4 separate regions of the Homo sapiens genome follow, and regions 1, 3 and 4 are each linked to region 2. Evidence: fine-mapped expression QTL. A gene starts in region 2. Each other region holds a variant in brackets. All regions are shown on one strand. Distances are between the middles of the regions. Region 1 has its middle 95 kb from the start of SPTSSA. Region 2 holds the start of SPTSSA (serine palmitoyltransferase small subunit A). Region 3 has its middle 34 kb from the start of CFL2. Region 4 has its middle 130 kb from the start of SPTSSA.

Evidence for each region. PIP is the estimated chance that this variant, and not a neighbour inherited with it, causes the effect.
Region 1: its variant is the best candidate, but not a certain one, in a credible set for the expression of SPTSSA in whole blood (TOPMed, PIP 0.63).
Region 3: its variant is the best candidate, but not a certain one, in a credible set for the expression of SPTSSA in lung (GTEx, PIP 0.73).
Region 4: its variant is the best candidate, but not a certain one, in a credible set for the expression of SPTSSA in whole blood (INTERVAL, PIP 0.56).

Annotation. Positions count from the first base shown.
Region 1 is chr14:34,363,932-34,369,820 of GRCh38, reverse strand. No RefSeq gene overlaps it. Among named protein-coding and RNA genes, the nearest start is that of SPTSSA, 95 kb to the left of the region's middle. The variant T/C (reference allele first, on the strand shown) is at 3,389.
Region 2 is chr14:34,459,227-34,465,115 of GRCh38, reverse strand. SPTSSA (serine palmitoyltransferase small subunit A) reads left to right here and starts at 2,876. Exons shown (of 2, transcript NM_138288.4): 1 at 2,876-3,020. The coding sequence starts at 2,909. RefSeq lists silencers at 2,354-2,863, 2,984-3,153 and enhancers at 2,063-3,013, 3,554-3,663.
Region 3 is chr14:34,677,987-34,683,875 of GRCh38, reverse strand. No RefSeq gene overlaps it. Among named protein-coding and RNA genes, the nearest start is that of CFL2, 34 kb to the left of the region's middle. The variant C/A (reference allele first, on the strand shown) is at 3,327.
Region 4 is chr14:34,327,922-34,333,810 of GRCh38, reverse strand. No RefSeq gene overlaps it. Among named protein-coding and RNA genes, the nearest start is that of SPTSSA, 130 kb to the left of the region's middle. The variant G/A (reference allele first, on the strand shown) is at 3,030.

The DNA.
Region 1 (5,889 bases), 95 kb after region 2:
TGAGTTCTTATGCAAGATCTTTTTTGAATGCTTAAAGAGAGAATAATAATAATAATAATGATAAGAAGAAAAAGAAGAAGAGGAAGAAAGAAAAAGGAAGAAGGAGGAGAAGGAGAGGAGGAGGAGGAGAGCAAATCAGTAAATCACTTAAGTAAAATTTGCCCTGCAAAGAAGTCAGGGCATCTTGGTCCTATCTTGTTCTCCCCCTCACCAAATTGGTGCCACTTCCTGAACACACTGGGTGCTTTCACATACTGGTGCATTTGCTGGCATGGTTCTGCCTGGCCTGGATGCCCTTCCCTTCATTTCTCAACACTTCCCCCGTCAAAAGCCAAGGAACTCCGTTGTGTAGCTTTCTCCAACACCCACAGATGGAATTAATACTTCCCTCTTCTGTAGACCCACACCACTCTGGAAACACCCCTATCATGCAGTTTATTATAGTCTGCCTAATTAGAAGCATGGTATTTGTCCACTGTGGTTGACCATGAGCTCCTGGCAGACTGGCAGTATTTTATCCGCTTTGTAGTCTTAACAGGTGGGGCAGAGCCTCTGATGATTCTGGGGGAAAAGAGTGAAATCACCTTTTGCCATTTGTCATGTTGTAAAGCTTCCTTTCCTTTGCTAAATACTTACCAGGAGAGCCCTACCATCATGGCTTAAGCATTTTTGTCCCACAGCAAGGGACTAGCCAGGGCAGGGAGGTAGATAGTTTTGTATTTCATATATGGCTTGTATTGTGCCATGAGAATATTTGCAGGCTTGTTACTTTGAAGTGCCTCTGTCAGAGACTAGAGGAAGCCTGATTCTCAAGCCCAAATGAGATAGGAAAGTTGTCATGGATACCATAACTGCCAGTCTTCTTGGATGTCATAGGCGAGGCAGGTCAGCTCAAGAGAGAAGTGCTTCCTGGTGGTGTTTGCCATGCCTGATTGTGGATAAATCCAATATAACCCAGCATTTTCTACACTTGTTTGAATGCACGAAATCTAGTGGGCAAAGATTGAGAAAGGCAGCCTTTAATTGCTGGGTGTGGTGTAAGGTTGATTGAGTGTGGTGGAGTTGTGAGTAGACTTGCCTGCAGAGAAGTAAAACAGATGGAAATTCCATGGCCTTGTAAGTGAGTTTTTATCTCTATTTAAAATCTTTCTCATTTCTTCAACTTACGGTTATGAAATATTTCAAACACACAGAAAAGTTGAAAGATTATTATGGTGTAATCCCATATGCCCTCCACATAAATTTCACAATTGTTAATATTTTGCAATACTTGCTTTATTTTTCTCTGTACTTTGGTTTTCTTTTTTGTGTGCCATTTGAAAGCAAATTATGTACACATGATGACACAACACTTTTCGATATTCAGCATTTCATCCCTTAAGAATACAGATATTTATCCACAGAAACAAAATGTCATTATCCCTGCTAAGAAAATTAACTATCTAAAATCAACTAAATATTTACATTTCTGGCCGGGCATGGTGACTCACGCCTGTAATCTCAGCACTTTAGGAAGATTGCTTGAGCCTAGGTGTTCAAGGCCAGTCTGGGCAATATAGTAAAATGACGTCTCTTAAAAAAAAAAAAAAAAAAGGCAAGAGTGGTGGTGCATGTCTATAGGCCTAGCTACTCAGGAGGCTGAGGTGGGAGGATCACTTGAGTCCAGGAGGTTGAAGCTGCAGTGAGCTATGATGACACCACTCACGGCACCCCAGCTTAGATGACAGAACGAGACCCTGTCTCAGAAAAACAAACAAACAAACAAACTGCATTAATTCCTCCAAAATGTCTTTGTAGCTGTTTCTCTCAAATTAATGCATACATTACATTTTAAAACTTCATTTTAACATAGAATGTTTTATCCCTCTTTTTTTCCCTCCATGACATTGACTTTTTGAAGAATCCAGGCTCGCAGCCTTATAGAATGTCCCACATTCTAGATTGTGTTTTCTCTTGATGTTAACCTGTTCCTCTTTCCCAGTAAGTTTTAACCCGGGCTGTACATTAGAATTCCTTGTTTTGATTAATTGGCCTTACAAAGAAGAAGTAATAAATTGGTCCACTCTGTTCTCACTGGGGGTTTTAAATACAAAACTAAAAACCTAGAAATTTCATACAAATGTCTGAGTGCTGCTCTAATCCAGTTAAATCAGAAGCCCTTGGGATGCAGCCCAGGTGGCCCTACTTTCAAAAATCTCCGGGTGGCTCTAATATGAGGTCAGAAGTAAGAACCACTGCTCTATCTCCTGTATATTCTTTAAACTAGAAGTTAGATTCGAGTATACGTTTTTGTTCAGAATATCTTAACTGTACATTACAATCATGTGGGAAGCTTTAAAAAATACTGATGCTTGGCAACTCCGGCCCCCGCCCCTGCCCAAGTAGATTCTGCCGTAGTTGGCATTAGGAGTTTGAAAAGCTCCTCGGGTGATTCTAATGCAATTAAGAAGCGCTACTGCCTTAGATTAGGTTGTTGAATTTGCATCATATCAGGAAGCATGTAATGCCACAGTGTTCCATTTTTTGTGATGTGAAATTCAATCACTGGATTAAGGTGGTCACCACCATACCTCTCCATTTCAAAGGTACAGTTGCTCTTCTTTGTTTATTTTATATATTTTTTGAGATGGAGTCTTGCTCTATCACCCAGGCTGGAGTGCAGTGGCGCGATCTCAGCTCACTGCAACCTCTGCCTCCCGGGTTCAAGAAATTCTTCTGCCTCAGTCTCCCAAGTAGCTGGGACTACAGGCGTGTGCCACCATGCCCAGCTAATTTTTGAATTTTTAGTAGAGACGGGGTTTCACCATGTTGGCCAGGCTGGTCTCGAACTCCTAACCTTGTGATCCGCCCACCTTGGCCTCCCAAAGTGCTGGGATTACAGGCATGAGCCACTGTGCCTGGCCCAGTTTCTCTTCTTTGTAAAAGTAAGTGGTCCCTGGGATGGTACTTTGGTACTCTAGGGATAGCCCGTATGCTAACAAGTTTTCATCCAAAGGTTTTGGCTTCCACTGGTGATTGTTACATGAATCAATGATTATATCAGGGGTTACAAAATGGTGATCTTCGAATTTTGTCATTTCTTTTACATTTATGAGTGTCTTACTTTTGTAAAGAAGAGCTGTCCTGTTTATCCTCCCCACTCCCTGCCCTGGGATTCACGTATCTTCATTAATAAAGAGCTACCATCATTATCCTTTTTGACGTTAAATTGTATCCAATTCGGCCCGTGGGAAACCCTTCAAGTCGGCTATTTATTTATTGAGATGGAGTCTCACTTTGTTGCCCAGGCTGGAGTGCTGTGGTGCGATCTTGGCTCACTGCAACCTCTGCCTCCTGGGTCCAAGCAATTCTTCTGCCTCAGCCTCCTGAGTAGCTGGGATTACAGGTG[T/C]CTGCCACTGTGCCTGGCTAATTTTTGTATTTTTAGTAGAGACAGTGTTTCACCATGTTGGCCAGGCTGGTCTCGACCTCCTGACCTCAGGTGATCTGCCCACCTTGGCCTCCCAAAGTGCCGGGATTACATGCATCAGCCACTGTGCCCAGCCTACAAGTTGGCTTTTTAAAAAGTAAATGATTTTTACATTGAAATATAACATATAGATAAATGCACAAAAAATCAAGTCTATAGTTCAAAGAATGTTCACAAAGCAAACACATGAATAGCTAGCTCCTAGATCAAGAAACAAAACATTACCAGGAGCCTGAAGCCCCAATCACACCCTCTTCCTATCACTTTTGTCCCCACACCAGTAACCACCAGCTTTACTTCTAAACCTATTGATCAGTTTGGCTGTTTTGGAATTTTGTGTCAATGGAATCATACCACATGTACGCTTTTCTGTCTGGTTCCTTTGCACGTCTGTATGCTCATGAGATTCACTCTTGTGTGTGCAGCTGCAGTTCTTTGTTTTTCATTGCTCCTGCCATTTATTTATTCATTCTAGTGTAGGTGGACATTAAGGATGATTCCAGGTTTTGACTATTATGTGCCCCTATGAACATTCTGGTACTTGGGGTCAACACATTTTTTTGGGTAAGGAGAATAGGGGTAGAAGTGGAATTCCTTGCTCATAGGGTATGTTTACTTTGGTAGAGGTCGCCACACAGTTTTCCTCCTGTTTTCTTTTGATATAACCCCCTTGGTCCTTACGTACTTCTTTTACTTTCTGGCAGAAGATGTCCTTGGCTCATCTTTTGTGTTCTCTGCCCGAGCCCTGGAACCAGCCATTTCTCTGAGGATTTCTCATCCTTTTGAATAGGGAACTGTATTTAAAAGCCGAGGTGTGGGTACTATTTGTGCTTAGCACTACTGGGATCTCATTGCTCTTAGTTCCTTCTAGTGGACAAAGCTCAGAAATACACAATCATGTGTTTGAACTGAGAGTTCCAATTTCAACTTTACAGAGTTGTTTTTTCCCTTCTTAACTCTGTTTTATGTTATATATCATCTAATTTCTCTTACGTTGAAAATCTTTGTTCCTAATAACATCAATATATTTTATTTGCTTTCTTCTACATTTTCATAAAACAGTTTTGAAGTCACAATACTAATACTACTGACAATATTATGTGAGTAAAGTAATATATGAATATGCGTAAGCTTCAGATTTCTTTGCAGTTCTTTTTGTCTCTTGTGAGCAACTTCGATACTAAGTTAAATGGCTTAAACTAATGTGGAGAATGAGGAATTTATCTAGCGGTTCAAGAAGTGAGGGTGTTCTGCTCAGAATGTAGACTGTGTGCCTTCTAGATGATTGCAGCTGTTGAGCTCCCACTGTGGGCTTTTTTTCCCTCTTTTATTTTTTTTTGAGATAAAGTCTTGCTCTGCCCCCCAACGCGGGAGTGCAATGGCACAATCTCAGCTCACTGCAACCTCTGCCTCCCGGGTTCCAGTGATTCTCCTGCCTCAGCCTCCTGAGTAGCTGGGATTACAGGCACCTGCCATCACGCCCAGCTAATTTTCTTTTTTTTTTTTGTATTTTTAGTAGAAATGGGGTTTCACCATGTTGGCCACGCTGGTCTCGAACTCCTGACCTCAAGTGATCCACCCACCTTGGCCTCCCAAAGTGCTGGGATTACAGGCGTGAGCCACCGTGCCCGGCCTTTTTTCCCTTTCTTTAACTCCCTTTCTGAAGGTTTTCAGGGTTTCCAGTGAGATGAGGTGCACAGCTGGGGGCAGTATGTCCTTCTCTCACTTAGAGGTTCTCTGGTCGACATCCTCCCTTCACTCTGATCGTGATGGTTAATTTTATGTATCAAGTTGACTGAATTATTGTGTTCAGCTATTTGCAAATCTAGATGTTGCTGTGCAGGTATTTTAAGAATAGGTGACTAACATTTAAATCAGCGGACTTTGGGGAAAGCAGATTGCTCTCCACAATATGGGTGGGTCTCACTGAGTCAGCGGAAGTCATTAAAAGACTCAGGTCCCTTGAAGAGGAAGGAATTCTGCCTCCAGATCGTCAGACTTAATACATCAACTTATTGCTGGACTCGCCAGCCTAACTCGTGGATTTCAGACTTATCAGCTCTCATGATTGTGTGAGCCAATTTCTTAAATTAATCTCTGTCTCCCTACTTCCCCCACCCTATTGGTTCTGTTCCTATGGAGAACCCTGATGATGACACTGGTTATCTCAAACCTGATAACAAATGTTTGGGGATCTCTGCTATGTGCCCCAGTAGTGGCATCACGGTGAGAAGCAGACTGTAGTCATCCAGGAAGGAAAGGAACAGAGTGGGATGATAAAGGGCCCCGTTAAGGGAGTGGATGCAGGAAATGATGTGTAAGAACCTATCTCCCCTCCCACTCTGAACTTGGCTAACATGGTTACCAGCAAACAGCTGGTTTGATTTGGAACCAGGGTGTCCTCCTGGGCTAGGAGCAGCTTA
Region 2 (5,889 bases):
TCAGGCTTCACTTCTGAGTTCCAAACCATGTGCTCAATTGTCCCCTGGACACCTCCATTTAAGTGTCCCTCAGGTACCTCAGACATAGCTTCATCCTAACAAAATCAATATCTTTTCAGCCAAACGTCTTCCTTCGGTTTCTTTGTATTGTCATCATCCAGGATCTCAGCCTCTTTTCCTCATTTCTAGTCAGTCACCAACTTTAGTGAGATGAGGTGGTAGAGCTGGTCTCCGAGAGACACGCAGTGGATTGGGAGCTACTAACAGTGAGGACAACCACCTGGCAGACATGGTGCTAGGGAGTGGACCCAGTAAAGGAAGGGTGGCTACGGGTGATGCTTCCAATCTTGGATGAATTTTATGTAGCATCACCAGATGCTGAGGGTAGTTGGAGTTCTCGAGGAAAAAGGAATGAGCTTGCCTGTGCCTGAACAGGAACAGGGACAGAAAGAAGTCCAAAACAGTTAAGTTTGAAAGTAGGAGGGCACGTGTACCTGCATCTCTGAGGGGTAAGGAGGTTTCAAGTATTTGTGGGTTCTACCTTTGTAATGTCTTCCCAACCTGTTTTTTCCCTCGGTAGCCTCCAGGCTACTACCCACACCCAAGTCTTGTTCCGAAAGCATTTTTTTTTTTTAAACGGAGTCTTGCTCTTGTTGCCCAGGCTGGAGTGCAATGGTGTGATCTCAGCTCACTACGACCTCCGCCTCCCGGGTTCAAGCGATTCTCCTGCCTCAGCCTCCCAAATAGTTGGGATTACAGGCACCCACCATCACGCCCGGCTAATTTTTTATATTTTTAGTAGAGACGGGGTTTCACCATGTTGGCCAGGCTGGTCTGGAACTCCTGACCTCATGTGATCCACCCGCCTTGGACTCCCAAAGTGCTGGGATTATAGGTGTGAGCCACCACACCCAGCCCTGAAAGAAAATCTTATTTAAGTTGTTGGCTCCAGTAACTTTTGGACATCAAGTTAAAAATTTCTTAGCTTCTCAAACAAGGTCCTTCAGAATATGGTCCCTGTTTGCTGTCTAGGCCCATCTCTTGCTACTGCATATACATTCTTTTTGCTCCAGCCACATGGAAGTTCTTCCAGTCTTCTAAAAACATCACAACTTCATCCTTAGAATGTCTGTCTCACCCTCTCTTCCCCAAGCTCATTCATTCTTCCATTTCTGCTTGTCCTTCAACACTCAGTTCAAGCACCATTTCTCAGAAGACTTTCACAAGCCCAATCTGATTTTGTCTGGGCTATCTTGGTATCCTAAAGGATACGATCCACAAAAATATCATTTACCACACCTCACTGTAATCCATTAACTTGCCTCTCTTCCCCAGCAGACTGGGTACTTTATGAAGGCAGGTCTCAGTCTATCTGGCTTGCTATCCCAATGTCTGGCACTTGATATTACTTACTGTTTTCTTTCTTTTCTTCTCTTCTCTTCTGTTTTCTCCTCTCTTTCTCTGTCTCCTTTCTTTCCTTTCTTTTGCTCTGCCACCTAAGATGGAGTGCAGTGGCACCATCCTGGCTCACTGCAACCTCGACCTCCCGTGCTCGAGCAATCCTCCCGCCTCAACCTCCTGAGTAGCTGGGACTACAGGTGCACGCCACCACCCCTGGCTAACTTTTTGTTATGTATTTACTTATTTTTTTTGGTAGAGACGGGGTTTCACCATGTTGCTCAGGCTGGTCTCGACCTTCTGGACTCAAGTGATCCGCCAGCCTCAGCCTCCCAAAGTGCTTGGATTACAGGCATGAGCTACGGCGCTTGGCCGGCACTTGGTACTTTTAATGAATAGTTATTAACCATGAAACTTTTAAAGTTTAAGCAGTAGTATGTTTAACCTGGAAGACTTTTAACATTTAAACAGCAGGCCATTTAATTGTGGCAGTTCACATGCTACACCAGTGCATGGAGCTCCTTGTGGCCAGTGCAATGTTGCTGGCCCATCTGGCAGTGGGAAAATCTGGGCATCCAGGAGTGCATCTCTAGGGAAGTATCACCAGCCCTCACACCAATCTCAAGCTGCCTGTCTTCTGCAGAACCCACTAGATCAGCGCGCTTCTGGCCTTGACCCACTTGGTGGTTACCTACAGCCACTAAGAGGTGGGCAGATAGATGTTTTTGGTAAGTGGTCTCTGGGTTAGGGAGTGCATGGGTTATGTCCGTCTAGGGGTGTGTGTGTGTGTGTGTGTGTGTGTGTGTGTGTGTGTGTGTGTGTGCATGGGTGGGGGAAGGGAGGAAGGAGGCCGAATGTGCATCCCTTCTACAAGGACGCCTTTCCAGACCTCCTTATTAGGTGGCGTTCGCCTCCTCACCCTCTCTCAGCCCCTTATCTCCTCTTACACGGATCACGACTTGATTAATGCTTGTCTCCCAGCTAGGCCGCCAGCTGCACAAGGTAAGGAACCGAAGGCATTCCGGTTCTCCCTGGCAATCCTCCTTCTCAGAAGGATGCCTGAGGCATAACAAGTGTTCCAGAAATATTTCTTCCGCAAGCGCTCTGGGCCAGTCTGGACGGACCGAGCGCCCGCTGGGCTGCGGGGGCCCCGGGACCCCGGCCGGCACTGACGCCCCGCCCACCACCGGCCGGCCCGGGCGGGGTGGGGCGCGGCTGGGCGCTCTCGCGGGGACCGTTCTCCGGCTAGCGTGGGCGATGCCCGGGCGGGGAAACGGGAGGGGACGACGCGACGCGAGGTAGCGGCCTGGCCAATGAGCGCGGGTCGGGCGGGGCTGGGGGCCGGCGGCCGGGGCGCGCGCGGGTCTGGGCGTGCCGCGGGTGACGGCGGGGCCGGGCGGGCCAATGGGCGCTGGGTGGCGGGCGGGCGGGCCTGGCGGCCGGGGGCTTTAGGACGTGAGCGGGCGGCCGGCCGGACAGACTGACGTGTGAGCTGCATCGCGGGAGGCGCATGGCGGGGATGGCGCTGGCGCGGGCCTGGAAGCAGATGTCCTGGTTCTACTACCAGTACCTGCTGGTCACGGCGCTCTACATGCTGGAGCCCTGGGAGCGGACGGTGTTCAGTATCCTGTCCCGGCCGCGCGCGCGGGGGCCGGGCTGGGGGCGCGGGCCGCGGGGCCGCATTTCCCCAGGCCCCGGGCCTGGGGTGGAGGCTGGAGCGGCGGCCCCGCCGGTCCTGTGCGCGGAAGCCGGGGGTGCAGGGGGAGGTCTGGGGGCCGAGGGCGGCGCTCGCGGGGTTAAGTGGGGGGTGGGGGAGACGAGAACTCTTGAGATCCGGGGTCACCTGTGAGTCGCTGGACCCAAGGGGGAAGCGTCTTGATTCCTGGAGGAAATCTCCGAAGGTGATGTGTAACCCTGTGTGTCGCCTGCACTTCGGCCGCAACTGCCTTTGGTTCAGTCCCCTGTTCCTGTAGGAGGCGGGGATCATGTAACAGTGGAGCACATCGCTCCCGGCTTGGACGCCTTTGACCTTTAAGTGTTCCTGATTTAGTTGGCTTTGGGTCTACCAAGAATTCTAGTCAGTTAACTAGCTTTTAAGCCAGGTTCTGAATTTGTAGGCATGACACTCCAGTAGTTTTTGAAAGCAGTTTAAGTTATTGTATCTTTTTGGTCTTCAAGTTGGGGAGTTTTAAAAGTGTATTTATTGCTTCTGTGCACCGTCCGTAGAAGTCGGCCCGAAAAGTGGTGCAATTTGTGGTTAGTTGTCGGTAGGGTTTGAAACTGTGTTTTGGTGGATAGTTAATAAATTCTTGTTAATGACTATTGAGTGGTTACTATAAGCAAAGCATTTGTGCAAAGCACGTTGTCTGTATCTTAACTCATCTAACTTTGAGAACTTCAGTTAATAACTCAGGGTTGTGAAGATAGGCTCCCTGAAAGTCTGATGTTTCTTGTCTCTGCTTGTCCATATTGACATCCTTTGATGATATTCTTGCAGATTAAATACTGATAATGAATGAGATGTAACTTTTAAAAAACTCAGGCCAATACAAAACAGGTATTTCACAAAACATGTTTAGTTTATCCACGTTCTCTCCTTTTCAGTGTGGTTTAGTTGGAGTAGCTTACTTCAGAATAACTTTGCGAATGCATTGTTGCATTCCAGTGAGTGACTGAGGTAATTTCATTCTAAGCCTTATCAAGTGTGTTTATTTGTTTTGAGATAGCTTAAGGTTGTACTCAAAGCTGAGTCTTTTGTTTAAGCACTTTTGAGGAATTTGAGATGCTTTCAAAGCAGTTTATTTATTTATTACTGTTGGCATTTCTTTCCAAACCTGGAATTTAAGAACCAGAATGCATATTTTGGATTTAGACTCTGAATATAGTTTGCTTTGATTTCCTGCACCATTTATTTGTAGCTGCAGTTTAGTCTCACTCTTTAGGGCTCGCAAGGTCATGCCTTGTAAAATATATACTTGAATGCATATTTAATAGAAGTCTCTCAGTAGAAGCAAGTATATCTTGACTGACATAACACATCCTAAAATTAATTTAAACAATGCTGGGTTAAAATGAAACTCTTTAAATCAGAGGTTGAATGTAGAGTGCACTATTAGAATCTAGTATAGATTTGACACCTAAAATCTAATATAGATTTTACACACTAAAATGCTACAGTTATCAATGATGTTAAGATTTTTCTGTTATGTTGCAATAGTGATAGTGTCCTATAAATAACTAGGTGATGCCTTTTTTGGGGGATGGAGAAATAAATTATGAAATGAAATATAGTGCCTTAGTAGATATTTGCCTTTAATGTTTTTGAGTTACCATGGTTTAGCGACAAGTAGTTTCAATTTTTTTTTCAAATAGGTGAGAACTGCAACCAACTGACATCCAATATTATAGAACCTTATGATTTTAAACTTAAGATAAAAAAATCTTATTTCAAATTTCACGTTATTGAATTAACTCAGGTTAGAAATGCAATTGTTTGACATAAGCCAGTCTTGAATTACTATCAGCTGTTGTATTTATATTTTTCCACTTCAACTTCTAGAATCATTTAAAACTATCTGATAGTTTGGAACATCAATTTGAGATTGAATCCTCATTTTAGCTTGGTGGAAAGAACTGAATGAGAAAACTGGATTTTTTTCCCTACTTGTCAGGAGGCTTACTCTGAAGTAGTTTGAATTTCATAAATCCATTAATGATTAGTAAGCTTCACCCAGAACTAATCTGTGGCCAGCTACAGGCTTTTGGAAAGAGGCATACTTTCTACAGCTTAAACATTACATTCAACTTAATCATCAATCCTAGAAACCTAAAATTTAGAGAAATTTGCCTCTGCCTGTCTGAAAATTTGTCTCTGAGTTAGAAGTCCTGAACAGAGGAAGACTTCAGATTGATTTCTTTTCTTTGTGTGTGTGTGTGTGAGACAGTGTTTTGTTCTTGTTGCCCGGCTGGAGTGTAATGTCGCCATCTTGGCTCACTGCAACCTCCGCCTCCCAGGTTCAAGCGATTCTCCTGCCTCAGCCTCCAGAATAGCCGGGATTACAGGTGCCTGCCACCACGCCTGGCTAATTTTTGTATTTTTAGTAGAGATGGGGTTTCGCCATGTTGGCCAGGCTGGTCTCGAACTCCTGACCTCAAGTGATCTGCCCACTGCAGCCTCCCAAAATGCTGGGATTACAGGCATGAGCTACCACGCCTGGCCAGATTAATTTTCTTCTTTTTCTTTTTCTTTTTTTTTTTTTGAGACGGTGTCTCGCTCTGTTGCCGAGGCTGGAGTGTGGTGGTGCAATCTTGGCTCACTGCAACTTTGCATCCCGGATTCAAGCGATTCTCCTGCCTCAGCCTTCTGAGGTAGCTGGGATTACAGGTGCCCACCACCACGCCCAGCTAATTTTTGTATTTTTAATAGAGGCGGAGTTGGGGGTGGGGTGGGGGTGGGGTGGTTTTACCATGTTGGCCAGTCTGGTCTCAAAC
Region 3 (5,889 bases), 220 kb before region 2:
GTGCCACTGCACTCCAGCCTGGGCAACAGAGCGAGACTCCGTCTCAAAAAAGAAAAAAGAAAAAATACCCAGATTGTTGAAATTACTGGACCTGGAGGACCAACTGTAGGAAGCAAGGTAATTGAAATTTAGGAAATTAATTCCTGTATCACTTTCTAAAAATAAACCCAAACAACAACCACAACAAACACCTAACATTGCCAGCCTAGATAGAGGTGAGAAAGCAAACATTGAATGGATTCATACCCTGAAGTGCAGCAGCAGTAGCAGTGCCCCTCACAAATCTTTAATACGGTGATAGTGAGCAGCAAACAATACAGCCAAACTGATTTGACTTGTGTCAAAAATACAGTGGGCAGCAGTGGGATCTGGACATCCCTCTAGTTGATGAACACAGGCTTAGAGGACATCAGCTTCTCCATAGCAAATGGGCAAATTTGTTCTGAAACCCAGTTGATAACTTTGTAAATTATCTGGGATTGACATGTTGTGTTCCAGTTAGGATGTGTGGAGTGAGACAGACCAGCTTTGTTGCTGTATTTATTAGGTTTTCTCTGGTGGAAAGACTCCACTGGAATCCAAGCTCCACCACTTACCAGCTTTGTGGCTTTGGCTGAAAACCACTCCTGGACTTTGTTTTCTCATTTGTAGATGGGGATGATAATTCCTCCCTCACCAGGAGGCTGTGCAGTTGGAATGTGATAACATATGTGAAAGTCTAGACTAGAGCCTGACAACTGGCAGGACTGACATGTTACTCCCCACCTCCTAGGATGACCCAACTCAAGAGACAGAAGCAACTGAACTGTGTCTGTACCTGAGCAGTTACGGCAGTGAGAGTCACGGCCAACTTCCTCTGTGGGGCCTGTACCCTGCAAACAGGGTTCTGTGGAAGTGGTGGAGGCTTCAGAGAGGGGATAGAGTCAGCCTCTGCCTTCAGGAAGCAACATCACTCACCAGCCCTTTCACCCACTAGACTGTTAATGGAGGTTTTAAATAGAAAATGATGTGATCTTCTTTCTTGAATGATTATACTGCTAAAGTTTCTAAATATAAACTTAAACTATGATACCTCCTACATACACACACACGGTCCTTATGTCAGAGTGGTGACTGTCCACCTGTCACGGCTTTTTCACATCTTTTTATTTTGAAAAATTTCAAAGATAGAAAAGTTGCAAGTAGTACAATGAACACCATATGTCACCAGATGTTCACGCAGATTTATCAATTAAATTTTACTGCATTTGCATTCTATTTTTTAAAAATCATTTGCTGAACCATTTAAGAGTTAACTATAGACACTGTGACACTTCATCCAAAAATACTTCGGTGTGTATCTCCTAAGAATAAAAATATTCATCCTATGTAACTATAAAATAAGTATCTCGGCCGGGCGCGGTGGCTCACGCCTGTAATCCCAGCACTTTGGGAGGCCGAGGCGGGTGGATCACCTGAGGTCAGGAGTTTGAGGCCAGCCTGACCAACATGGAGAAACCCCATCTCTACTAAAAATACAAAAAAAGCAGCCGGATGTGGTGGTGCATGCCTGTAATCCCAGCTACTCGGGAGGCAGAGGCAGGAGAATCACTTGAACCCAGGAGGCGGAGGTTGTGGTGAGCCGAGATCATGCCATTGCACTCCGGCCTGGGCAACAAGAGTGAAACTCCATCTCAAATAAATAAATAAATAAAAATAAAAAAAATAAGTATCTCACTCGGGAAATTTTACATTAATACAATAGTAGCATTGAAAATACAGTCCCTATTCAGAATTTCCCAGTTATTCCAATAATACCCTTTGTAGGTTTTTAAAATACAGGATCCAGAAGAAAGAAGGGAAAAAAAATCACACATTTCACTTAATTGTCATGTCTTACCCAGTCGATTTCTGAAATTCAGCCCTTTCCTTTTTGGAGCTAGAGCTGTTGTTTTCCCATTAATTTTATCCACCTCAATGGGTCTCATAACTAAATGCAAGCCCCAGTAATTTTACGTCTTCACTTTTGATCCATGTACTTAAAGAAAAAAAAGTGACTTGTATTGAATATAATCCCACCATTTCTCAGTTCTTAGCTTTAAACAATATTTGAATAGAATTGTCATGTTAACAGCATGTGCACAATGACAGATCTGGGCAGTAAAGGTGGGGGCATTCAGCTAAGGGCACATTCAACTCACAGTAGTGACCGAATATTCAGGTTACAAGCTGTGGTTGGAGATGAGACCTGAATCTCTCCCTAGGTAAGGTAAAGAAGGATCTACAAAGAGTGAGAGGAGAAGCCGCAAATGGGTAACTTTTCCCAGAGGAGAGAATATTTTGCGAGAAGAACCCGTCTGAATGTTGGGAGACTTCCAGGCCAGAAGAGAGGCAGCAGGGTATGCTGAAGACCCAGAGAAACCAGGGGAGTGGGGTGTCCTCAGAAGCGAGGAAGGAATGGGGTGCACAGATAATGAGAAATAGACAATGAATTTCATCCCTGAACTGCTTATGGTTTTTAATTCAAGATGTGAATGAGGTCAGGTGCTGTGGCTCACGCCTGTAATCCCAACACTTTGGGAGGCTGAGGCAGGTGGATCACGTGAGGTCAGGAGTTCAAGACCAGCCTGGCCGACATGAAACCCTGTGGCATATGCCTGTAATCTCAGCTACTTGGGAGGCTCCCTTGGAGAACTGCTTGAACCCAGGAGACGGAGGTTTCAATGAGCCAGTGAGCCAAGACTGTGCCATTGCACTCCAGCCTGGGCAACAAGAGCGAAACTCTGACTCAAAAAAAAAAAAAAAAAAAGAATGTGAATTAATTCCAAGTCCAGCCCAGGAGAGGGGCATTGGGGCGCAGAGCTATGCCAGCTGGAGTCAGATCAGATAACCTTCCAGAGAGGCAGGGTGGAGGCCAGGCCAGAAGCTCAAAGCCCCAGACCTCAGATCTCCTGAGGCAAGACTCCTCTAGGTAAGCAAACAGGAGTAGGCACTGGGAACTGTGGAGAGGGAGAAAACCCAAGCATAATCATCAGGAAGAGAAGTTGCCGAGGAGCACATGAAGGGACAAACTGGAGGACAAAAGCCAATTTGGTTGGGATGACCAGGGAGCAAATGGAAAGAATCTGTGTCCTTGACAACATTGAACCACTGAGTTAACCAACTGCAAAACTGCCCCACTGCTGTACTACTTCTTGTTATATAAAATAATAAATTTCTGGATTGTTCGGAAAAAAAAAGAGGCAAACTAAATCAATAAATTAAGAAACTCCTTAAAAAGCACAGTTTTAAAAAAAAGTCTTAAGAGCCAAGAAAATGAAGTAAAAATATCAAATAGGTGAACATAA[C/A]GTAGTTACAATAATTATAGCAGATCCACTCACCTTGTTAAGTAGATCTTAAACATATAATTAGATTTAAATGTTTAAAAAGAATAAGGTTGTCAGTGAATAATTTGATTTTTAAAAGATCAGAGAAAAAAACAGAAAGGCAGGCAAAAGGAAAATCTGGCTGGGCACGGTGGCTCACGCCTGTAATCCCAACACTTTGGGGGGCCAAGGCGGGTGGATCATCTGAGGTTAGGAGTTCGAGACCAGCCTGGCCAACATGGTGAAACCCTGTCTCTACTAAAAACACAAAAATTAGCCGGGCGTGGTGGCAGGTGTCTGTACTACCAGCTACTTGGGAGGCTGACGCAGGAGAATCACTTGAACCCGGAGGCGGAGGTTGCAGTGAGCTCAGATCCTGCCACTGCACTCCAGCCTGGGCAACAGAGCAAGACTCTGTCTCAAAAAAGAGAAAATTTATGTAACTCTCAGTTTCTTTTCTTTTTTTTTTTTTTTTGAGACAGAGTCTTGCTCTATCGCCCAGGCTGAAGTGCAGTGGCGCAATCTCAGATCACTGCAAGCCCCACCTCGCAGGTTCACGCCATTCTCCTGCCTCAGCCTCCCAAGTAGCTGGGACTACAAGCGCGCACCACCACGCCCAGCTAATTTTTTGTATTTTTAGAAACAGGATTTCACCGTATTAGCCAGGATGGTCTCGATCTCCTGACCTTGTGATCCGCCCGCCTCGGCCTCCCAAAATGCTGGCATTACAGGAGTGAGCCACCACGCCCGGCCAACTCTCAGTTTCTTAAGACACATGAATATATATGTGTGTGTGTGTGTGTGTGTGTGTGTGTCTATATATATATATATATATATATATATATATATATATATATATACACACACATACAAATATCCCCACAGCCATGTATTACTTAACCATGAAGAATACATTCTGAGAAAAGCATCGTTAGGCAATTTCATCATTGTGTGAGCATCATCAAATGTACTTACCACGAACCTAGATGATATGGCTACTACACACCTAGGCTATATGGTGCAGCTTATTGCTCCTAGGCTACATACCTGTACACCATGTTACTGTACTGAATACTGTAGGCAGTGGTAACACAATGGTACTTGTGTATCTAAACACATCTAAAAACAGAAAAAGTGCAGTAAAAATATGGTGTTATAATCTTTTTATTTATTTATTTATTTGTTTATTTTTGAGACGGAGTCTCATTCTGTTGCCCAGGCTAGAGTGCAGCGGTGTGCATTTGACTCACTGCAACCTCCACCTCCCAGGTTCAAGCAATTCTCCTGCCTCAGCCTCCCGAGTAGCTAGGATTATAGTCGTGTGACACCACACCAAGCTAATTTTTGTATTTTTAATAGAGACGGGGTTTCACCATGTTGGCCAGGCTGGTCTCGAATTTCTGACCTCAGGTGATCCGCCCACCTCAGCCTCCCAAAGTACTGGGGTTACAGGTGTGAGACACCACGCCCGGCCTATGGTGTTATAATCTTATGGGACCACTGTTGTATATGTGGTTTGTGGTTCACTGAAATGTTGTTATATGGTGCATGCCACTATACACACACACACACGCACACATATGTGCACACACACACATGCACACACATGCACACACACGTGCACACCCACGCGCATGCACACATGCACATATAAGTATATAGCTCTATATATGTATATATACATATATGGGCATATGTGTGTATATATGTGTGTGTATATGTATAGTATACACAATTTGCCCCGTGAAGGAGGCACTGATGAATACAGAGGCATTCCTGATTATTCAGGTGGTGTGAGCAAGGGAAAGTAAAGTACTAACTGCTGATGGTTGAAAAGAGGTTTGAGGTGCTCTTGCCAACTAACAAGAGAATTTTTGCCCGAATAACTAGAATGAGTAGAGCATTCACAATCCATGGTATTAATATGGTTTGAAAGCAGTGTGAGTATGTCATAGCAGAGGGGGACGTGGCATGCAGTCTCTATTGTCTTGCGTCTCTGTGGTAAACACTTTTCAGTAGATACTGAATAATCAGGGTGAGATTATTAACCCGTTCTTCATCTCTGAGAAATTAACCCCACAGCACTCCAGTTTACCAGTACAAACCTTACTGTAGAGTTGTCTACTGGACTGTGAATAAATTCATCGGGTTCTAATTTGCAAGTCGAACTCTAAAATTTTCAATCTTCTCGCCTTCAATTTATTTTGAAAACAGTCTGTGCCTGAGTTATGACAAAGGAAGGGAGAATTATATTTTCACCCTCAAATTGATGGAATAACTTTAAATGAAACACCCATATTCCACTTAGAGACTGTAGTATTGACTACTTTCCTATTCTTACGCCTCCTAATTCTTAAGTGGGGGTGGTGGGGCCTTTAACAGCTGCACATTTCCAACACAGTCCTCCCTAAATGGTGTCAAATGACTGGGAATGAAGTTTTGGTAACTCTGGATGATTTATGCAGCCACTTAGTCATCGTTGTTCCATCAGGGGAAACAATGAGAGGCTTTTGTTTGTGTTTCTGTGTGTAGGGTGTGAGGGACA
Region 4 (5,889 bases), 130 kb after region 2:
ATCCCTTCAACTCACACACCTCCACTACTCAGGTGTCAACAGTAAATGGGTCTCAGGATTCTCAAGGTGTGATGCTTTGGGGTGTGGGTGGTACCCACAAATCTGTTCTTGTAAAAACCTGAGTGGCCCTTAAAGTAAAAGTTTGAGGGGATAGAAAGGAAACCTCACCTTTGGGCCACACACCCTCCTTGCTCTTCTCTGGGTGTTCTTTTTTTTTTTTTTGAGACGGAGTCTCGCTCTGTCGCCCAGGCTGGAGTGCAGTGGCGCAATCTCGGCTCATTGCAAGCTCCGCCTCCCGGGTTCACGCCATTCTCCTGCCTCAGCCTCCCGAGTAGCTAGGACTACAGGCACCTGCCACCGTGCCCGGCTAATTTTTTGTATTTTTAGTAGAGACGGGGTTTCACCGTGTTAGCCAGGATGGTCTCGATCTCTTGACCTTGTGATCCGCCCTCCTTGGCCTCCCAAAGTGCTGGGATTACAGGCGTGAGCCACCGTGCCCAGCCTCTGGGTGTTCTTGTCTGAGAGGCAGTAGTGTCACTGGTAGTGGGGTTGTGACTGCAAGGTGTCCAAGTTCTTGGCATTTTGAACAAAGAATTGGACAAAACGCCCACCAAAGCAAAGAAGCAACAAAAGAATGAAAGCAGGGATTTATTGAAAACGAAAGTACACTCCGTAGGGTGGGAGCGAACCCGAGCTGCGGCTCAAGAGCCCGGATACAGAATCTTCTTGGGTCCAAATACCCACTAGAAGTTTCCCATTGGCCACTTCATGCTCATCTCATGTAAATGAATTGGTAGCCTACAATCAGTCTCGTTGCAGAAAGCAGCCAACCAGAGGCTGAAGTTACAAAGGTCACTCCTGTGCAAACCTATCAGAGGCATTTTGCAACCAATCGGAGGCTAGGGTGAAGTTACAAAGTTATACTTCTATGTGCAAACGAAGACTTGGCCTGCAATCGGTCTGACTGGTTGTGGACCGCAACTATTCAGAGGCTGGAGTGAAGTTACCAAGTTGCAAAAGAAGACTCCACCTGCAATCAGTCTGATTTGTTGTTGACACCCAATTTCCCATTTGTCGTTCAGAAAAGGTCAAAGAGAGTAGCCTCTGGTCGTTTTGTTGCTTAGGTGTGGAAAGTTAGGGTTTTCCTTTCAATTTAGTTCTAGGAAGTCTGCGTGAAGGTTTCCTGCCTCCAGATCCTATTCTCCTGCCTCAGTAGGAGCCTTTTTAAACAAGCCTCTTGTTAAAAAAACAAAACAACCTCTAGACAATTTAAATTTAGCAGTTTATTTGAGCAAGGAATGATTCATGAATCGGGCAGCACTCAGAATTACAAAAGATTCAGAGAACTCTGCAAAGAAGCAGTGATATAGAAAACAAGTTAAAGTACAGAAATAGCCTGGTTGGTTGCAGCTCAGCTCTTGCCTTATTTGGCCTCGGGTCTGATCAGTTGGCAGCCTGTGATTGGCTGAAGCTGGGCTGCAGAGGGGCTGAGACTCAGCTGTTTGTTATTCTCCCAAGTTAGGTTTTCAGTTTATGTGCTAAGTTAGGTTGCGGTTCATTACCTAGGAACTGAGAGTACAGAGACAGCCTCAGGTCAGGGGCCTTTCTTATTTAACACTCTCATGATACATTTTTCTGCGTGAATATGCATTTAATACATGGACATGAAGCAAAGCTGCAAAGGGTGCAGCTTTTCTGGACCTGAAAAACAAGTTGGGTTAAAGCAGGTGAGGCTTCCCCCTCCCCATCGGTGTGTATATAGTTTCTTATCCCTGCCTCACCCTTCCTTCTGCCATTTGCCTTGGCAGTGTGATTTGTATCTGTAGTGCTGGTTGGGGCAGGTGAGGTTTAGTAGGGGCAGTTTATGAAGGCTTGTGTTTGCACACTCTGAGATTTTGGGCCCAGCCTGGGTGCCCCTGAGGACAGGTCTGAGCTGGTTCCAGGGTATGGCTTCCAATGCTGGAGCGTCCTGCTGCTCTCTGCTGCCCCCTGGGAGAATATTCTCACACTGCCGTTCCAGGTCAAAGGCAGGAAGACAAGGTATTAATAATTTCCAGGTGGAACAAACTGGGGGCTCGGCGTGAGAAGAATTTCACTGGTTAGATTCACGTATCGAGAAAAACACACAACATACCTAGAGACTATGGAAAAATCCATGCACTCCAGCCTCTTCATCTGCAGCTTTAATTCTCACGAAAGCATCCCCACATGTGATTGTTTCTGTTCCTTGTGTCCTGGCTTTAAGATCTCATTTCAAACTTGTCATTCTCCTTAATAATAAAAATCTTGTCAATCCCTTGCTGAAATCAGGTCTGTCCTATTTCTCAGATCTGTTAGTTTGGAAGTCCCATTTATAGAGGTGATAAGATTAGGCATGGCTTGTCCTTAGTGAACCTTAGTGCTTCCTTTTCTAAAAGTGGGCATAGTGTACTGGTTACGAATATGAGCTCTGGAGTCAGGGGAGTCTCAGGCCCATCACTGAGAACGAGACTAATGCCTGCCTTCTGTGGTGAGGATGAAATGAGATGATATATAGAAAGCACTCTGTGTAGTGTCTATCTCATAAGCCAATGAATGTTGACTGTTTTGTTATTTCCTAAGTTCTTATAATTCATTCATTAGTTTGTTCCAGACTCTTGAATGGTCTCCAAGTCCTCTTAATTTGTTGACTGCATTCTTCATGATTTCTCCACTGTGATACTCTATGAGAAACAGCAGACACGCAGACACAAGCCTTGACCCAGTGGGGTCACAGTGGGTGGTGGGGAAAATCAGTCTCAGACCCAGTCATGACAGGGGTTAAAGTGAAGGTGCTTTTGGCAGATCACACATGTTCTGCATAAAAGCCAAATCTGCTCTGTTTCCAGTATGTCTAAACACTTCACCTTTAACAGTAAAAAATAAAAACATAAAAACTTTGCACCCTGAGATAAATCAGAAGTATCAGAGTCACCCTGACAGGCCTGGTCCCCAAATAATAAAACGTGAATGTTTATTGTAAACTTGGGCACCTTCCAAAACAAGCTCCC[G/A]GACCCCATATTTGCTATGTGGATGTTTAGAGCTATGGCGAGAGCTTTGTGAATACAGCAGTCAAGTGAGTAAGTTGCTGCTTTCTCACCAGAAACACGTGAATGGATATTTTGTAACTTTGGTAATACTGCACATTTTCCCTTTAAGTCCTTGTTATATTTTTTATTTAACCGACCAGTCCTTCAGAAGTCTGATTCTCTTGCTCTCTTTGAAGGTGAACTTTTCTTTCCTTTTGTAAATGCCTCTTTCTCTGAGTATTTTGACACTGGTTGTGCCTTGCCTGAATCATGATGAGGTACAAAGTCTCAAAAGATGTTCCATTTGGTCCACTTTGTTATTAGGTTAAGATTAAAAAAAATTTGAGATACTTTGAGAGTATAAATACTCTTAAGAAGTATAAGTACTTTTAGAGTATAAATACTTGAGAATTACCCATGAGAAGTGGTGAAAATAGTATAGTGAGTTCCCATATACCCTTAGTTTAAGATAGCATCTTAACCCCAGCACATTAGCAAACCAGGAAATTGACATTGGTATTAACTAAAGTTCAGATTTTATTCAGATTTCACCAGTTTTTATATGCACTTTTTTTTTGAGACTGAGTCTCGCTCTGTCGCCCGGGCTGGAGTGTGGTGGTGTGTTCTTGGCTCACTGCAACTTCTGCCTCCCGGGTTCAAGTGGTTCTCCTGCCTCAGCCTCTGAAGTAGCTGGGACTACAGGTGCATGCCAACAAGTTTGGCTAATTTTTTTTTTAATAGAGATGGGGGTTTCACCATGTTGGCCAGGCTGGTCTTGAACTCCTGACCTTAGGTGATCCACCTGCCTCATCCTCCCAAAGTGCTGGGATTACAGACATGAGCCACCACACTTAGCCTATATGCACTTTTTGTGTTTGTGTATGTGTGTGTGCATAGCTCTGTGAAATTTTATCACGTGTAGATTTATGTAAACACAGCCACATCCAGGGTGCAGACAATTCCATCACCCAAAGAAATTCTGTGGTGTTACCACGTTATACTTACACTTTCTCCCTAACCTGACCTGTGACAACTATTGCTCTGTTCTTCATCACTATAATTTTGTCATTTCAAGAATGTTATATAAATGGTCCATAGAGTATGTAAACATTTAAGATGAGCTTTTTTCACTTAGCATAATGCACTTGAGATCCATCCAAGTCATACGTATCAGTATGTTTCTTTCTGTTGCTGAGTAATATTCTACTGTATAATGTACTGCAGTGTATTTCACTATTCACTTGTTGAAGGATGTTTGGGTTCTTTCCAGTTCTTGGCTATTACAAATAAAGCTGCCATGAACATTTATTTATAGTTTCTTAGTGTGCATGTAAGTTTTATTTTTCTAGGTTTCTGGATGACCATCTTATGTTATAAATTGTGTTTGCAGTTGTATTTATAACACAGCTGGTGTTAAGTTGTGCTTCTTGGATTATCCTGTGTGCATGAGAAAAGAACAGAAGTAACTTAGGATGTAAGTGATGCATTTAGACCAAGCGAAGTCAAAAGCTATCATGACATTTGATGCTAATGGTGATTTGACAGTACTTCAAATAGAGTCAATTGGTAAGAGAATTGAGCCATCACAAAACACGTGGTAGTATAAATATGCCAAACTCAAAAACATTTGTGTGGAAACATCAGTTCCGTAGCTGTGTTGTGAAGAGAAGAGTGATTTCGTTCCAGCAGAAAAACATCATCTACCTCGTTATATTAAAACAATTGTTCATTTGGATTTTTATTGGTTTTATAGTTTTCTTTTTTATTTCATTTATAAATTTGTTTTAATTTTATGGCTGTGGACTGGCACATAATCAGCTTAACTACTCAATAAAACCACTATAATATATGTGATTTAATAATGGTTGTGGTATTGAAGAAAGGCAAGGTACAAAACAAATACACTATATTGAAAAAGCTGTAAAGGTGGGAATTTATATCATGTTTTGTTTGTACATATTAATATAGTTGGCATTTTGGATCAAACAGACGTAAAAATAAAGGTGCTTAAACAAATATAGAAGGTCTACTTATCTTATAAAAGTCTGAGCTGGTAGGTGGTGTAGTAGGGTGGGTCGTCTAGATACCCAAGCTCCTTCTAGCTTGTTGTTCTACCTTCTCCTGGATCAGTGCTTCTCAAATTTTAGTGTGAATATGAATTACTTGGAGATCTTATTTAAATGCAGAGTTTGGCATCAGTAGGTCTAGGGTGAGGCCTGAGAACCCCTATTTCCACAAAGTCCCAGCTGCTGCTCCTTCTGCTGGTTCGCAGGCCACATTTTGAATAGTAAGGTCCTGAGTACTGCCTTCATTCACATGGTTGAAGCAGTTTCATCCCCACTTCACTGGATTTCCAGCTATGGGAAGGGGTCCAGGGGAAGTCGAGGACTGGCAGCGTCTTAATGAGAACATGACCAGAAGTTGTTTATGTTCTCTTCACTTCTCACTGCCAAAACTTGTCATATGATTGTACTCAGTTGCAAGGGAGGCTGCAACATGTAAGCTCTGGGTAAAACTTGATGAATTCTATTAACGAAAAGGAAGGTAGGGAGAATTAATGCTAAGGAACTGTTAGTGGTCTCTGCCACAATATTTCATGAGAATTTAAGGCAACACGGGGTTTATGAGAATTTTTTCCTTTTGAAGAGGTGCATGCATTACTTAAGTTTGAGAAACACTAATCTGAAGTATACTGTGAAGTTCCATTTTAAGAGTTAATAAGGTTAAGCATAGCTTGTCCTTAGTGAATCCATAGTGCTTCCTTTTCTGAAATTGGGTATAGAGTACTGGTTCAGAAGGTGATCTCTGGCAGGGCACAATGGCTCATACCTGTAATCCCAGC